Linked DNA regions of Homo sapiens. The protein of the gene in region 1 interacts with the protein of each later gene in a biochemical or structural test. Each region holds a gene or a part of one and is shown in the gene's direction. Other genes may lie near its edges.

The links. The genes of interacting proteins can lie anywhere in the genome.
Region 2: the proteins of AHSA1 (region 1) and CLCN1 form a complex in vitro, tested with the Homo sapiens proteins (one study listed by BioGRID).

What each region holds. Positions count from the first base shown.
Region 1 is NC_000014.9:77,459,741-77,468,624, forward strand, and holds part of AHSA1 (activator of 90 kDa heat shock protein ATPase homolog 1), read left to right. Parts: coding exon 1-66; intron 67-2,419; coding exon 2,420-2,502; intron 2,503-2,901; coding exon 2,902-3,019; intron 3,020-4,857; coding exon 4,858-4,946; intron 4,947-5,798; coding exon 5,799-5,927; intron 5,928-8,342; coding exon 8,343-8,444; intron 8,445-8,716; coding exon 8,717-8,768; intron 8,769-8,884. UniProt on the Homo sapiens protein: Acts as a co-chaperone of HSP90AA1. Activates the ATPase activity of HSP90AA1 leading to increase in its chaperone activity.
Region 2 is NC_000007.14:143,318,193-143,327,076, forward strand, and holds part of CLCN1 (chloride channel protein 1), read left to right. Parts: intron 1-1,562; coding exon 1,563-1,683; intron 1,684-2,471; coding exon 2,472-2,603; intron 2,604-3,172; coding exon 3,173-3,301; intron 3,302-3,522; coding exon 3,523-3,656; intron 3,657-5,116; coding exon 5,117-5,194; intron 5,195-6,218; exon of another isoform or gene 6,219-6,221; coding exon 6,222-6,300; intron 6,301-8,884. UniProt on the Homo sapiens protein: Voltage-gated chloride channel involved in skeletal muscle excitability.

The sequences.
Region 1 (8,884 bases):
CCATTAACAATCGCAAAGGGAAACTTATCTTCTTTTATGAATGGAGCGTCAAACTAAACTGGACAGGTAAGTCTAAGCTGGGCTGTCAGAGAGATTAACTGTGTTTTGTTTAACCTGTTAAGTAGCTGGAGAGAACAGTTTTGAGGAGTTACAGACCTTGAAGGGAGAAGGCAGATGTTGCTGCTTTGGAGTCCTATGTAAAGCAGTATCGAGTCCTGGAATTTCTTTGCCATTGTGGGATGCTAAATGGATTTCCTGTGTCTGGGTCTCATAAGTCCCATCCATGAAGTGGCCGGGCCACTGCATCTTTGGGCCTTGGTCTTTGTTGGGACACCTACGATGATATTTCTTCAGACTAGCTACATGTATCTTGTGAGTGATTTAAAAGGAGGAAGGAGAGGATTTTTTTGGTCTTGATCTTTGTGCACTGTCTTCAGTGTGAATCTTAACAGATTAAACCACTGCGCTAATGAAGCTTGTGTGTGACAGTAATTTGGGGCTGTTTTATCTATCTTCTAGTTTTATGTCCCTTGTGTATGACATTAGGAAAAAATTGAGGTCATGCGTATGACCGTTTTGGACAGTCCTGACTGTCGGGAGCCTGAATGTAAAAAGGCACTAAAGCTAAGGGAGTATGAGATAGCTACTGTCTGTGTATGGGGCAAAGCATGAAATTTGTGCTTTGATAAACATTTCCGAAGTGAACAGTCATATCATAAAGAAGGGTGCAAGTAGATCTATCTGTCCATGATTTTTGTTAATTTGTTTTTAAAGTACACTCGAAGCATAGTAGTGTGGAAGGAATCTTCGGTGTCATCTTGCTCAGACCTCCTTTTTTTTTTTTTAGACAGAGTTTTGCTCGTCACCCAGGCTGGAGTGCAGTGGCACGATCTTGGCTCACTGCAACCTCCACTTCCCGGGTTTAACCAGTTCTCCTGCCTCAGCCTCCCAAGTAGGATTACAGGTGCCCGCCACCACGCCCGGCTAATTTTGTATTTTTATTAGAGATGGGTTTCACCATGTTGGCCAGGCTGGTCTCGAACTGTGTCTGGCCGACGCTTTTTTTTTTTAATATAGGGACTAAAAATTGGTAGCATAGTTTTGTGCACATTAAATGGTAAGAAATAGATAAATATAGGCCGGGCGTGGTGGCTAACGCCTGTAATCCCAGCACTTTGGGAGGCCAAGGTGGGCGGATCACGAGGTCAGGAGATCAAGACCATCCTGGCTGACACAGTGAAACCCCGTCTCTACTAAAAATACAAAAAATTAGCCCGGCGTGGTGGCATGTGCCTGTAGTCCCAGCTACTCGGGAGGCTGAGGCAGGAGAATCGCTTGAACCCAGGAGGCGGAGGTTGCAGTGAGCTGGGATCGCACCGTTGCACTCCAGCCTGGGCAACAGAGTGAGACTCCATCTCAAAAAAAATAAAAAATAGGTGAATACTACAATAAATATGGTGCTTTACCATGAAAAAGACCTGAAGTTTATTTGTGAAAGTGGGCATCAAAGCCAGGCGCGGCGGCTCACGCCTGTAATCTCAGCACTTTGGGAGACTGAGGCAGGTGGATCACGAGGTCAGGAATTGGAGACACACCTGGCCAACATGGTGAAACCCCATCTCTACTAAAAAATACAAAAATTAGCCGTGTGTAGTGGCACGCACCTGTAATCCCAGCTACTTGGGAGGCTGAAGCAGAAGAATTGCTTGAACCTGGGAGGTGGAGGTTGCAATGAGCCAAGATCATGCCACTGCAATCCAGCCTGAGCGACAGAGCAAGACTCTGTCTTGCGGGGGGAAAAGGTGGGCATCAGAAGGGTTGCAGCTTGAGGACTACTATGGAATGGTAGAAGGAGAGTCATCCACAATCAGAGGGAACATTACACTCGTTGAGGATGGGTATGGCTCACAACACACGCTGTAAACTGAGGTCATTGGCAGATAGGTGTTTGAGATGTGTGTGTTTTATGTATCCTGTGTAGCTGGGTGAGGCTTTCCGTATTCACCTAGTGTTTCTCATGGATGGAGTCACATATAAGCAAACATGAACTTCTCATTATAATCAAATTGTTCCCTAATATTTCAGTTGCACTGAAATAAATTGATATTTTCAAAACAAGTATTCTAGCAGAACTACTGGCTTTTGACCCAAGTTCTCATGGTATAACTCATGCTAGTACCAAATCTGTAGCTCTTTGTCTCACATTGTAATAACATAGTTGGTTTCCAGTAACCTGGTGAGGAAAGACATTTCTTTTGGGGGTGCGGGTGTTGATTGCATCTGGCATGTGGCATTCTCAGAATAAAGAGGATCAGTTCAGCCATCCAAAAGCAGCAGAAGTGAGGTAGCAGTTAGGACCCTGGAGCAGAGACCTTTCCTGCCAAGGAGTGGACTAATGACATTGCATTGGTTTTGACAGGTACTTCTAAGTCAGGAGTACAATACAAAGGACATGTGGAGATCCCCAATTTGTCTGATGAAAACAGCGTGGATGAAGTGGAGGTTTGTGCTTCATAACTCCTAATCCGAGTCCTCTATATCCTCTTATTCTCAGATGAGAAAAGTGACCTGTCATTCAGGATTCATAGCCCAGGCTTGGTCCAAGCATTCAGAACCCTAGCCTGCAGATAATTTTCTAGGCATATGGTGCCATTGGAAACTTCTAGAGCAATTTGCACTTCTTTAATTTCTTCACTTTAGCTAGTGACATGGGTTCTAACTAACATTAGCCACTTGACAGAGAGGACTCAAGAAGGAACACTAATGGGGATTGTACGAATACCGCAGTACTCATGCATTTCCTTTGGAAATGTCAGCAGTCACCTGATTGCTCAGCCCCCACATTCCATAATGAGGGTGCCCCTCAAGTTATTTACCACCTACTTCTCATCTTTCACCCAGATTAGTGTGAGCCTTGCCAAAGATGAGCCTGACACAAATCTCGTGGCCTTAATGAAGGAAGAAGGGGTGAAACTTCTAAGAGAAGCAATGGGAATTTACATCAGCACCCTCAAAACAGGTATCCCTTGAGTAGTTCTGTATGCCTTAAGGAGGTAGTTTCCACCTGTTAGACTCTGGTTAAGGGCCTGGACAGTCCTTTCTTTGGCAAATGGGTAAAGATTTGGGGGGAGGGGGCTTATTTCATCTTAAAGTCAGTCCATAAGCTCGGAGTAAGGGAAAGATCTGGAGCTGTGTTGCCTAATAATGATGGTTGAGCATTTTAGATGTGGCTAGACCAAACTGAAATGTACTGTGATGGCCTGGCGCGGTGGCTCACACTTGTAATCCCAGCACTGTTGGATGCTGAGGTGGGCTGATTGCCTGAGCTCAGGAATTTGAGACCAGCCTGGGCAACATGGCGAAACCCTGTCTCTACAAAAAATACAAAAATTAGCTGGATGCGGTGGCCCATGCCTGTAATCCCAGCTACTCGGGAGGCTGAGGTGGGAGAGTGGCTTGAGCCCAGGAGGCAGGGAGGTTGCATTGAGCTGAGATCATGCCACTGCACTCCAGCCTGGATGACCAAAAAACACAAGAGATGTGCTGTGAGTATAAATTACACTACGGGCTGGGCACAGTGGCTCACACCTATAATCCCAGCCCTTTGGGAAGCCGAGGTGGGCGGATCACCTGAGGTCGGGAGTTCGAGACCAGCCTGACCAATAGAGAAACCCCATCTCTACTAAAAATACAAAATTAGCCGGGCATGGTGGTGCATGCTTGTAATCCCAGCTACTCAAGAGGCTGAGGCAGGAGAATTGCTTGAACCCAGGAGGTAAAGGTTGCGGTGAGCCAAGAACGCGCCATTGCACTCCAGCCTGGGTGACAGAGGGAGACTCCATCTCAAAAAAAAAAAAAACAAAAAAAAAACTGTATTTGAGGCTCACATTATATTTCTAATGGACAGCGCTAATCTAAAGACTTGGCATCTCTGGACTCATTACTTGAATACAGTCTGGACTATCTTTGATATGCACTCTCCAGGGATATTTAGATGCTTAGAATAGAAGTCAGCTCAGCTTTCCCCTGGGATTCCATTTCTGCCAGTGTATTCTGATCTTGGTGTTGGAATATGTATAATAACCATCAAAGAAGGTGATGGAAGGTGATAGACACCTTTTTGGGGAGGACCAGTACACCAGTGCCATAACTAGTTGTGGCTTTTCTGCAGAGGTAAGGCAGAGTGGAGGAAAGGCACTAACCATGCATCCATAGGTGCTGGGTAGATTACCCACTCTTGAAGTCATCAAAGTGCCACGGCGTTCACGCCATCCTTCCATAGTAGACCTCACATGCACTTAATATGTTATAATGTTTCCAGTTGAGTCAGGATAAGCTTTTAAAAATAATCCCAGTGGCCAGGTGCAGTGGCTCACACCTGTAATCCCAGCACTTTTGGAGGCCGAGGCTAGTAGATCACAAGGTCAGGAGATCAAGACCATCCTGGCCAACATGGTGAAACCCCGTCTCTACTAAAAATACAAAAATTAGCTGGGCATGGTGGTGCACGCCTATAATCCGAGCTACTCAGGAGGCTGAGGCAGGAGAATAGCTTGAACCAGGGAGTCAGAGGTTGCAGTGAGTTGGAGTGCAGGCTGCACTCCAGCCTGGTGACAGAGCAAGACTCCATCTCAAAAAAAAAATAATAATAATCCCAGTGAACATACTGTATTCTATAGCATATACCCAGGTACCAGTCTGGCATAGGCCAAAAGTAAAGATGTAAAAATAGCCTCTTCCTTTTCTGGTCATAACCTCATTCTGTGGTAGGATGGCTGTGTTTGTCAAGCTGTAATGAAACTCCAGATCTCAGCTACTAAGAAGTAACTTCCATGAGCTGGAATTTTATCTTTTCAGAGTTCACCCAGGGCATGATCTTACCTACAATGAATGGAGAGTCAGTAGACCCAGTGGGGCAGCCAGCACTGAAAACTGAGGAGCGCAAGGTAAATGGTTTTCCTGGGGTGGGAGACTGTCTGCAAAGGAACTTGAGAGACCGCCTTCTTAATTCCACATATCAGCTCTCTGTGTCCCTAACCTCTAAGCCAGACCAGCCTGCGATCTGCTCATGGTGCTTTTTCAGAGCGCCTGCAATATGCATTCATTCACCCATCTTTAACCTGGTTTTAATTCATTTATCGCAGACCTTTAGAGCAAGTAGGAGCTATCAGACAGTTAAAAGTCTGACTCTTGATTGCATTTAGCACCAGTTAGGAGGTTATGAACAAAGGATGGACTTCACCTATATAAGTCTTCAGTCTAATTGGTGTGTTGATATTTCATACTTTGATATTAGAGGTCCCATCAAGAAATGGAGTTACATCCCTGTCTTCACCCAATCTCCCCAATTTTCAGGGTGAGCAAGTACTTTATCTAGAGATGGAAGTTTGTGGTTCAAGCTCAGCACTTGGTTTAGAGCCCTGTTGCTCTTTTGTCAGCATAGTGAAGTGGATACTCTGGAAGTGGGGAGAAAACCGCTTCCAGCTATTTAAACATAGAAATTGTTTGAGAATTACACTGAGCTCTTCAAAAATATCTCAATGATTTGATTTGTTATTTGACTATCAGGGTCTTCCTTGTAGAGTGGTTATTTTTACTGGGAATTGAGGAGGTTTCCAGAATCATTACCCTCATGACTGAAACACCTACACACTCAAATTCCCTTCAAACCCCTTGGAATAATTACCCTTGGAGGTGAACATTTTTATGAGAATGAATGGTACAACTGTCTCTGAAGCCACGTTGATTGAGGTTGTATCATTACTCTGTATTGATCATTTTCACTGCCACCTTCACAGGCTAAGCCTGCTCCTTCAAAAACCCAGGCCAGACCTGTTGGAGTCAAAATCCCCACTTGTAAGATCACTCTTAAGGAAACCTTCCTGACGTCACCAGAGGAGCTCTATAGAGTGTTTACCACCCAAGAGGTAAGTAAGTCTTGTCCTTCAGGCCTCATGCCATCTGCCCTTCTAGGTGACTTGAGTTGGGGGCATATCCCTTCAGCAGTGTACAGAAGAGGTACTCACAAACTCACAACTGGAGCCATGAGGCCTTCATCAAAGTGAATTTTTCCCTCCCTCTATTCTCTTTTTTTTTTTTTGAGACGGAGTCTCGCTCTGTCACCTGCCCAGGCTGGAGTGCAGTGGCACAATCTCAGCTCACTGCAACCTCTGCCTCCCAGGTTCCAGCAATTCTCCTGCCTCAGCGTCCTGAACAGCTGGTACTATAGGCACACGCCATCACGCCTAGCTAATTTTTATGTTTTTTAGTAGAGATGGGGTTTCACCATATTTTTTAGTAGAGATGGGCTGGTCTGAAACTCCTGACCTCAAGTGATCTGCCTGCCTCAGCCTCCCAAAGTGCTGGGATTACAGGTGCAAACCACTGTGCTCGGCCATATTTATTTATTTTAAAAACAAAAGACCTGGTCTTGCTATGTTGCCCAGACTAACGTTGAACTTCTGGGCTCAAGCGATCCTCCTTCCTCAGCCTCCTGAGTAGCTGGGACTACAGGTGCACACTACCGTGCCTGTTCCAGTTTTGGGTCATATAAGTAGAAACCACTGAGTGAATCTTACTAGAAAAGTGAATGGCCATTCTTGGTTACTCTGTAGCACAGAAGAATTCCTGGCTTCTTTGTGTTGCACAGCTGACTTGTGCCATTCTGCTGCTATAGTGTGGAGTTGAGAAACATGACCGTATTCAGCTTTATTATCTGATAGTAAAGGTGGTTAGGATATGTGGAAGTTCCCATATACTCTGGGACAAAATTTCAAGATCTTATTTTTTAAACAAAAATGTAAATACAGCCATAAATTAAGAGGTACCATGTAGTATATGGGTGTTAGTATGTCTGTGCGCCTGCACCCAAAATACTCTCGTGATAAGTTCTCTCCCCCTTAGAAAACCAAGAACTGGAGAAGCAATTAAATGGACTGGGTTTTCTAGAAATTTAAAAAGATGTGTATAAACAAAATTGTACTGTACTTCAGAAAGTTATCTTAGTTGACTCCAGAGATGTGTTATGACCTGGCTATGCCAAAGACTGCATTCGATGGCTAACTTGGTTCTACTTGGTGCCTGCTGCCTTGAAGGACTTAGCAGCATAGCTGTGGTCTTCATGTGAATTGAATTTAGCACTTCAACACAGACTTCAGTTGAATCTCTGCTTCCAAACTAGCTAAAGTTTTCAGAGTTTTAAAATACTTTTGTATGGGAGGATTCCTAACATTTTTAACCTTCTGTTTATTTTTAATTTTGTACCATGTATTCGTATTACCTACTTTAAAAAATAGTAAAGTCTTATTAAAAGTAAAAGCGGCACCGTTGGGTAATCGAACACAGCAAAATGATACTGATTTCATATATATGGAGTAGGCCAGGCACAGTGGCTTACATCTCTAATCCCAGCACTTTGAGGGGCTGAGGCGGGTGAATTACTTGAGCCCAGGAGTTTGAGACCAGCCTGGCCAACATGGTGAAGCCCTGTCTCTACAAAAAATACAAAAATTAGCCAGGTATGGTGGTATGCGCCTGTAGTCCCAGCTCCTCAGGAGGCTGAGGTGGGAGGATCACCTAAGCTTAGGAGGTCGGGGCTGCAGTGAGCCATGATCATGCCACTGCACTTCGGCCTGGGCAACAGAGCGAGACCTATCTCAAAAAAAATAAAAGGGCTGGGCGCGGTGGCTCACGCCTGTAATCCCAGCACTTTGGGAGGCCAAGGTGGGTGGATCACGAGGTCAGGAGTTCAAGACCAGCCTGGCCAAGATGGTGAAACCCCATCTCTACTAAAAAATACAAAAAGTTAGCCAGGCATGGTGGCATGCGCCTGTAATCCCAGCTACTACAGAGGCTGAAGCAGAGAATTGCTTAAAACCTGGACGGGCGGAGGTTGCGTGAGCCGAGATCGCGCCACTGCACTCCAGCCTGGGCAACAAAGTGAGACTCCGTCTCAATAAATAAAAAAATAAAATAAAATAAAAGATGGAATAGATCTATTTTGGGACATGTTCTCAGAAATGATAATAGAAGTCTCAAACATTTACTTGAGAATTTTCTTTCATAAGCTCATTCTTATATCTTTCTGAACCATATACAATTTCAAATAAATAAAAGTAAACGGGTCCAAAGTAATGGCATCATCAGATCAGAAAGAATTCCCGAAGTCAAGTCCTGGCTGGTATTAAAACAGAATAGAGGGACACCCTGGACCCGCCTGTGGGGCAGACTGGTGGAAATGAGAGTTGAGGCATGCAGCCTTCAGCTGGCATTTGTCCTTGGGTCCCACTGAAAGCCATGTATCTTCTGCCTCTTTTTTTTTTTTTTTTTTTTTTTCCCTGCAGCTGGTGCAGGCCTTTACCCATGCTCCTGCAACATTAGAAGCAGACAGAGGTGGAAAGTTCCACATGGTAGATGGCAACGTCTCTGGGGAATTTACTGATCTGGTGAGTACCTGCCGGCCCTAGACTCAGGTTATTGCCTCTGGTCAGATGAGTGACATTTCTCTTTTTCTGAACTCTATAGGTAAAATGTAAGGCTTTAATCTCTTTGTTAATAAAACATTTTGTTTTTCAAAAAAAGGCTGTGATTTGAACTGTCTTGCAAGTAATATAATTGCACAGATGGTAGACTCCGTATGAAGGGCAGATGACTGATCCTAGCTAGGATTGGGTACATTGTAGTATATAATATAGACTGAGCTGTTTGATTATTTTAGGTCCCTGAGAAACATATTGTGATGAAGTGGAGGTTTAAATCTTGGCCAGAGGGTAAGTAAACATATTTATTGCCATTACCCCCAGAACTTTTTCTCTTTGCTGTAATTTTTTTTTTTTTTTTTTTGGAAACAGGGTCTCACTGTCACTCAGGCTAGAGTGCAGTGGCA
Region 2 (8,884 bases), on another chromosome or scaffold:
CCATGGAATACTTTTTTTTTGTTTTTTGTTTTTTGTTTTTTGTTTTTGAGATGGAGTTTCGCTCTTGTTGCCCAGGCTGGAATGCAATGGCGCGATCTCAGCTCACCGCAATCTCCGCCTCCCTGGTTCAAGCAATTCTCCTGCCTCCGCCTCCCAGGTAGCTGAGATTACAGGCATGCGCCACCATGCCTGGCTAATTTTTGTATTTTTAGTAGAGACGAGGTTTCTCCATGTTGGTCAGGCTGGTCTTGATCTCCTGACCTCAGGTAACCTGCCCATCTCAGGCTCCTAAAGTGCTGGGGTTACAGGGGTGAGCCACTGAGCCTTGCTTCCACCTTGGAATACTTTTTAACAAATCCCAGACATTGTATCACTTGTAGACTTGAGTTTTGACTTCTCCCTTGCCCTCCCCTCACCCTGCCCTGCATGGGACCAGCCAGAACAGATCTGGCCCTTTAAGTGTTTTCCCAGCCCAGGTATGATGATATGAAGCAACCCCCTTCCTTGTCTCCACTGGCCTGGGGCCTTGAGGAGCTGAGACAGCCTCAGCTGTCTGACTTCCACTGGGAAGTATGTTCTCTCTCTGGGTCCCACGCAGGGTTTGGAAGGAAACACTGCCTCCCTCGGTCACTGACCCAGAAGACAAACAGCCATGAGCAGGGCAATTCATGTGCGTGCTTGTTCAGGACTGCGGTGTAAAATGCTGCTCATATTGTGAAATCAGATCTCTTCTACTCAGGCTCTCCCAGAATCCAGCAACATGGCCTGGCCTGACCCTGGCCCCAGAGGACAGTTAGTGTAGTGGGAGTGGGGCAGGCTAAAAGTGGTTGGAGCTCTTGTATACCCCACACAGACACACGTGCTCTGCCTCAGGATGGAAGCGGAGGGCCACCAGACCTGGGGGAGCTGCTCTGTCCTCTTCACATGTGGGGCAGGTAGGGGTCTAATTATCTAGCTGTGGGAAGAAGTAGATGGACCTGCCTTTTCGGGCTAGTTCTTGTGTGTGCATACAAGCACTGGGAGATGAAGTGGATGGTCTTGAAGCTTGATAGAGGACCTGAGGTGCCTCAGGTAAGGCTAGACACACCAAGGCAAAGTGCAACCAAGACTGCCCTGCTAGTTAGCCCAGTCTGTCCTCACCCTGTTCATGTTAGGAGAAAAGTCAATGCAAGTGGTCTGGGGAAATTGTGGGACATACAGAAAGCGCAGTGACACAAAACACCTGATTGATATGGCCACCTGGGTTCAGCACAGTTCTGTACCTCTGCTTCAAAGCAAAAACTGGCCTCCTTGATAAAGGCTACCCTGGATCAAGGTGAGTACAGGTTGGAGAATGGGTGTAGAGAAGGTAGGATGAATGAACAAGGGAAAGGGTGGGAAGTGTGGGAATGGAGGGTGGAGAGTAGAGGGCAGGGATGACCACAAAGTCACCCTGCATGCAGTCAACACCCAGAATTCAAAAAGCTGTTGTTCTTTTCTTCTGTGAGTCTGTCTGCTGGCCTCTGTCTATTATTTTTTTAGTCTTCCACAAGGCAGACACTGATCATTCTCTCTCTGTCCAGATTTATGGCCATCACAAAGAACAATTCTCAGACAGGGAGCAGGACATAGGGATGCCCAAGAAGACAGGCTCCAGTTCTACCGTGGACAGCAAGGATGAGGATCACTATTCTAAATGTCAAGGTGATGGGGACTGAGGAATAAAGAAATCTGGAGTAGAAACAGGTACAGGGATTAGGAGAATAACTTGGGCATCCCATTGCACGTACGTACTCCCTGCCCTGCTACAAAAACTCTCCTCTAATTGTTTTTAAGAGACAGGGTCTCACTCTGTCATTCAGACTGAAGTGCAGTGGAGTGATCATAGCTCACTGCAGCCTAGAACTCCTGGGCTCAAGTGATCCTCCTGCCTCAGCCTCTCCAGTAGCTGAGACTATAGGCACATGCCACCATGCCCAGCTAATTTTAAAACTTTTTTTGTAAGGATGCTGAGGCTGGTCTTGAACTCCTGGCATCAAGCAATCCTCCCGCCTTAGCCTCCCAAATTCCTGGGATTAGAGGCGTGAGCCACCATGCTTGGCCCCTCTAAGTATTAAGGAAAAGGCACCTCTCTTCACCTCCTTCGCACTTTGCCTATTCCCTGTTATTCCTCCCACAACTCCAAGAAATGAGTTTTAGGAAGGAATTCAAGTATTCATGGGGAACTGGGCTTTGGTGCCTTTTGCAGGGGCCGGAGCAGCAATCAGCAGAGGGGTAATGAGAAACTCAGTGCATAAGACATACGGACCCTGGGGGCCCAAGGCTTCCCCTCCCATCTTGGGTATAGCACCCAAAGTAAAGTAGTGACTCGTTAGCTGCTTTTCTCTCTCTCTCTCTCTCTCTCTCTCTCTCTCTGTCTCTACATATATATATTTTTGTTTGTTTGTTTGTTTGTTGTTTGTTTGTTTGTTTTTTCCCTCATCTCTTCCTAGATTGTATCCACCGCCTGGGACAGGTGGTGAGAAGAAAATTAGGGGAAGACGGGATCTTTCTGGTGCTTCTGGGACTGCTGATGGCTCTGGTCAGCTGGAGCATGGACTACGTCAGTGCCAAAAGCCTTCAGGGTAGGTTTAACCTGGACCTTTGCCCACAGCCGTTTCTGGAGTTTCTACCTAGGGTAAGCAGGGTGTGTTATCGGAAGCGAATGTTAAGCAGGGTGTGTTATGGGAAGCGAATATTGCGCAGAGAGGGATCAGGTGGGACTCCAGGCCCAGAAAAGACCAGACCCAGGCCTGCTCCACTTCTCACGCCCCTCCACTCACTGCCACCCAAGCAGTGGATGCCCCTCTAATAGGGTGGCCAACTTGCCCCAGTTCCCCAGGGACTTTCCCAGTTTCAGCACTGAACATCCCGAATCCCAGGAAGCCCCTTGGTTCTGGGCACACCGGGTGGTTGGTCACACCCAGGCCTCCAGACCCTGTACTCCAGTGGGATTCGTGACACAGCCACCAACTGGAACAGGCCATGTCGCCTCCATAACTCAGGCTTCCCATGTGTCAAATGAGAGCAGCACCATCTCAGAAGGGGCACACAGAAGGAGCACGGCCTGAGAACATGCCGGGTACACGTCCTGGTGCCGTGGACACGGCTGCTCAGCCATGTTCTGCCTAACCCCAGGCATGTGTCTCCGCAGCCTACAAGTGGTCCTACGCGCAGATGCAGCCCAGCCTTCCTCTGCAGTTCCTGGTCTGGGTCACCTTCCCACTAGTCCTCATCCTCTTCAGCGCCCTCTTCTGCCACCTCATCTCTCCCCAGGCTGTTGGTGAGAACTTGCCACCAGACTCGGCCTGAGCTGGGTGGCCTGAGAGGGGCCCTGTCTGTCTCCCCCATCATCCAGCCCCACCCACAGCCCTGTGCTGCCTTGCCCCATCCTCCCCACCACTGCCTCTTCAGCCCTCTCCAATTCCCATTCCCATATTCTGGACATTCATCTCCCTTTTCACCTTCACCTTGACCCTGCACATAATCTTTCAACGCTTTTAGGCTCTGGAATCCCCGAAATGAAGACAATACTTCGTGGGGTTGTCCTGAAGGAATACCTCACAATGAAAGCCTTTGTGGCCAAGGTTGTCGCCCTGACTGCGGGCCTGGGCAGTGGCATCCCCGTGGGGAAAGAGGTAGGCCTGGCATGACTGAAGCCAGAGCTGGGAGGGGCCCTCAGGAGCCAGGGTGGCACCAACTCTAGAGGGAGCTCTGGGAGTGGAAGTGGATCAGGGGACAGGACCAAGGCCAGGGCCAGGGGACACTAGGAAGGGGAAATGCTTTGGAAGTTCCTCCAACTGAGGTCCAATGACAAAAACCACACAGCTTGGGGAGCTTGGAGCAGGCTCTTAGCCTGGACACCCCTGACATTTGGGGCTGGAAAACTCTGTGCTGTGGGGAGGCTGTTCTGTGCAGTGGAGGGGACTTAGCAGCATTGCTGGCCTCTGACCCTTCCTAGATGCCCAGCTGCATCGCCCAGTTGTGACACCAGCATGTCCTCAGACATTGCCATATGGACCCTGGAGGACAAAATCTCCCCTGGTTGAGAACACTGTCTTAGAGATCATCCAGACCAATTCTCTTGCTTGAATCTGAGAAAACTAGGACTGAGAAAGAGGCTGTGCTATTTTCAAGGTTGCTCGGTGGGTTGCAGCCTCCTTCCGTTCTCTGCTGGTGTTCATCTTTGCCCCCTACTGCCATATTCCACCCAGCAGCCAGAGGCATCTTTTAAAAATGGGATCAGTCTCATCTGACCCCTGGTCAAAAACTTCTTAAGGCTTTCCATGCCTCTTAAAACAAAATTGAAAGTTTTGTTGTTGTTGTTGTTGAGACAGTGTCTAGCTCGCTTGCCCAAGCTGGAGTGCAGTGGTGCGATCTTGGCTCACTGCAACCTCCACCTCCCAGGTTCAAGCGATTCTCCCACCTCAGCTTCCCGAGTAGCTGGGACTGCAGGCACACGCCACCACATCTGGTAATTTTTGTATTTTTAGTGGAGATAGGGTTTCACCATATTGGTCAGGCTGGTCTCAAACTCCTGACCTCGGGTGATCACCTGCCTTGGCCTTGCAAAGTGCTGGGATTACAGGCGTGCGCCACCGCGCCCGGCCTTATCAGAACTTCTTGCGTGGCCTTCGAGACCGTGGACTCTGGTTCCTCCTCTCTGCAGGCCTGTGCCCCTGCTTTCCTGTGTTTGGCTCACAAGTTTCCTTTCTGTCCCTCAGTCACTCTGCCCTGGGCCCCTCAGGGCGCCTGTGTGCTGTTTTCTCAGCCTGGAACATTCTTCCTCCTGACATCTGCGCGGCTCCCTCCCTCCCATCATTCAAAGCTCTACTTTAGGCAGGCTCCTCAGGCCCTTTCCTCTAAACACGTGCCCTCCCACCCTCCTCCACCCTGGCTCTCTGGAGAGGAGAAACACACTGGTTTCTCCTCTTCTTCCTCTCTGGGATGAGGCCTCGTGAGGGCAGGACCTCTGTGTAACTCCCGTATTTCCAGCCCCTGGCACAGTGCCTGGAGTAAGGAATATTATTAGTCCAGTGAGTGCTGCAGAGCCTCCATCTGGCCTCTGACCCCCGCCCCCTCGCTCCCCCTCTCCCAGGGCCCCTTCGTCCACATTGCCAGCATCTGTGCTGCTGTCCTCAGCAAATTCATGTCTGTGTTCTGCGGGGTATATGAGGTAAGGTTGAGACAGTGAAATGAGCTGGGGCCAGGTGGTAGAAGGAGTCCGGCTGTGTGTCCAGGGTGTTGGGAGGGCTGCCTCTGCTCTGGGCTGGCTGTGGTGCTGAAGCAGCATCGCACTAATCCACGCTCCCTTCCTCGTCTCCCTGTCTGCCTACCCTGGCCACGTGATGCCTCTGTTTAGCCTGTGCCTGTCCTCCAAATGTCCACCCCTCTTTCACCTGTGGCCCCACATGGAGGTCTGGTCTGTCGTCTGCTCCCATGCTCTCCCTGCTAGTCCATACCACCCCCTCTGTGTTAGTTTCCCTCCACGTTTCCCTCGTGTGCTCCCCCATCCCTTTGTAGCTCCCAATCCCTCACCCTACCTCTTACATACGTCCCGCCTGCCCCACCCCTCCACCCCCTTGTCCCGCGTGCTTCTCTGTTGCAGACCGTGCCTGGGCAGCTTGACCTCCTGGTGTCGGCCTGTGCAGTGGGCGTGGGATGCTGCTTTGCAGCCCCTGTCGGAGGCAAGTTGCACTTCCTCCCTATCCCGGTTGCCTAAGCAAGACTTAGAAGGGGGTTTTGGGTGGCTGCCACAAGCTTTGGAGTGGGCATCCAGGGAATGACTGTGGATCACAGCCCCTGCGGTCCAGATACCTATATTTTTTCAGCAAAGGGCTGTGTATTATTTTGAGACTGCTTGCTGTTTGGTGCAGGATTTATTAGTACTGCTTTCTGGAGTTCTTGCTGTCTCTTTTCTGCTTATCATTTATTGATTTACGTGCCTGGCATATATTTGCCTAACTTTTATTTCATTTTCTACCTTCTATTTCATTTTGACACTGTGCTATGAGGTTAATTCCTTTTTGCCAAACTCACTGAGTTTCTCTTGGCCTGGGAATCACAGGGGACATGGGACCACAAGGACTCCTTTTGACTTAGGCCTCTCATTCTGCCTTATTCCCCATCCCTGCTTGTTCTGTCCTCTGCCTGCCCACCTCCCTCTCTTCCACCTGTTTCTCTGTCTGTCTCTCCCCTAGTAGCAGCCATACTACTACTCTGATATCCTGACGGTGGGCTGTGCTGTGGGAGTCGGCTGTTGTTTTGGGACACCACTTGGAGGCAAGTGATTGACCCCCTCCCCCATCAATCGGCTTGCCTGGCCTGGCTCCCAAAACAGTTTTAATCAGTATCCACAAGTGCTGGTATTACCAGGTTACTTACGAGAATAGCTGACTTTTAGTAAGCCTTTGCTATGTGCCAGGCAATGTTTAAAGCACTTACTTTTATTCCTGGCCAAAGCCATATGAGACAGATATTACAGAGGAGGAAGAGGAGAGAACTGAGTTACAGAGAGGGACAGTGACTTGAGCAAGTTCATTCTGTTAGTAAGGTACAAGCCAGGAATTAAAACCAAGGCAGTCTCCGTGGCTCCCCTACTTATTTTCAAACCTGTTTGTATTGTTGGATGTTTTTGCCCTACACCGATGACATCTCTAACAGGGGACTCTATGAACTTCCTCCTTCAAGGGAAAAATCCACATTTTGTTGTGCTTTATTAATTGCATGGGAATTCAGGTAGACCTTATTTAGATTAATGGTAAGCTTTTAGTGTGGAATAGTTAGGAGAGTTTCAAAGGATAAATGTCCCTTGATAGCAATTTAAAGTTAAGTTTAGCTCTTTCTCCAAGTATAAGGCAAATAGCGATCTCTCAGATTATTTTCCTTATCATGGATGATTAACAAATGGATGTAGTCGGAGAAAGCAGTCGTATCTGTTTATTGACTCATCAAAATCAATTATAGCTAGATTAGCAGGGCAGGATTATATAGATCATTCACTGGATTCATTGATGATAAAAAGGACACCAAGTTGATATGTGAAGAAACAAAATTGCAGGAAGGGCATATGCTTCTTAAATGACCCACTGTTAGAGGTTTCTTTTCAGTTATGGAAATGTTAAGCAATCTTTTCATAGAATCTTCCAGGGAACTAAAATGACTTGGTGCAGGAATGATAAGTGGAGAAGAGTTTAAAGTTAATGCAAATGCATGATCTAACTTATGCAAACACTGTGGCAAAGCACACAGACTAAGGAACCCAAGTTAGCAAGCACATCAGCTAGCATCCTGTTTACATTTCTGTCCTCAGCTCTACTCATTAAAATCACTAATCCTTGTCAGTGGAGGATAGTGTATTTGGATTTTTGCACATGTTAAACGTTCACACTTACATTTATACCCACTTTTGCCTTTATTTACTCGTTAGCCTTTCAAATCCAGGAGGTTTAAATAATATTTTTAGACTGGGAGACTTCTGTTGTTTTGTTTTAATCAGCCAGATTCTCTTAACATGAAGAGAATTTGCATTTTCCTCGTAAAATTGGAATTTCTGAGAAGAATCAGAAAAGTTCTTCTTGGTCCTGTGTCAAGTATGGGAGAGGTAAAGATCACAGAGAAGTTACAGGCAACAGTTCTGAAACCACTGTGGTAGAAAAAGGAAGAAAAAATTCACAGATAAAACATTGCTGTTGACACAAGAAATTGTTAAGTACTTAAAAATTAAGGTGCCATGTTTACGCTGTTTGTATTATGTGGTAAATGACAAAGGTATTTGCAGGTGGCATTACTTGTTTTTTTTGTTTGTTTGTTTGTTTGTTTGTTTAGATGGAGTCTTGCTCTGTCACCCAGGCTGGAGTGCAGTGGCACCATCTTGGCTCACTGCAACCTCTGTCTCCTGGGTTCAAGCAATTCTCATGCCTCAGTCTCCCAAGTAGCTGGGATTACAGGCCTGCGCCATCACGCCTGGCTAATTTTTTGTATTTTTAGTAGAGACAGGGTTTAACCATGTTGGCCAGGCTGCTCTCAACCTCCTGACCTCAAGTGATCCGCCCACCTTGGCCTATTACTTGATTTTTAAAAAAGAATACCGAATAATTCTGAAAGGAAAATTAGTATCAAAATGAGGTATTCATTATGGAGTCAGCTCTTAATTTCTTACACTAATGAAATAAATGGAATTCAGCATTCTACTGAAATGACAAGCATCTTGCTCCCATTCTGTACCAGGCCCTGTGTTGGATCTTGCACACTCAGGGTGCTCCTAGTTGAGAGGCTGGACAGGCAGGCAAACCTATTGTCATAGCTCACTCGAAAAAGTGGCCCAATGGCAGCTGGGGTAAAGTGCAGTGGGGACCTTATGCTAACCTGCCTACAAGAGCCCATGAAGCTTCACAAAAGAGGTGGTGTTTGACATGAGGCTTGAATAATAAGTAGGACTGGCAAGGAGGATGGTGGGCAAGGTATTCTGGACAGAGGAAACAGCATTGCAAAGTCAAGATGGGGGCAGTAGCTGAGTATTACCAGGGGATACAGAGGAAGGAATAATAGCAAATGAGGCTGGACAAGTAAAGGGGGGCTGAATTATGAAGACTCTCATGGCTATGTATAAGAATATGGAATTTATTCTCTAGACTAGGATTTGCACGAATGTGTTTCATGGTTTACTAGATCTAATGTGTAAAAATGGTTCTATAAACCAGTTGGAAAATGCTTGGTTAAAGAGAGTTTTTTTTAAACTAAAAAAGTTATCAGTGGCCAGGCACAGTGGCTCATGCCCATAATCCCAGCACTTTGGGAGGCCAAGGCAGGCGGATCATGAGGTCAGGAGTTCAAGAACAGCCTGGCCAATATGGTGAAACCCCAT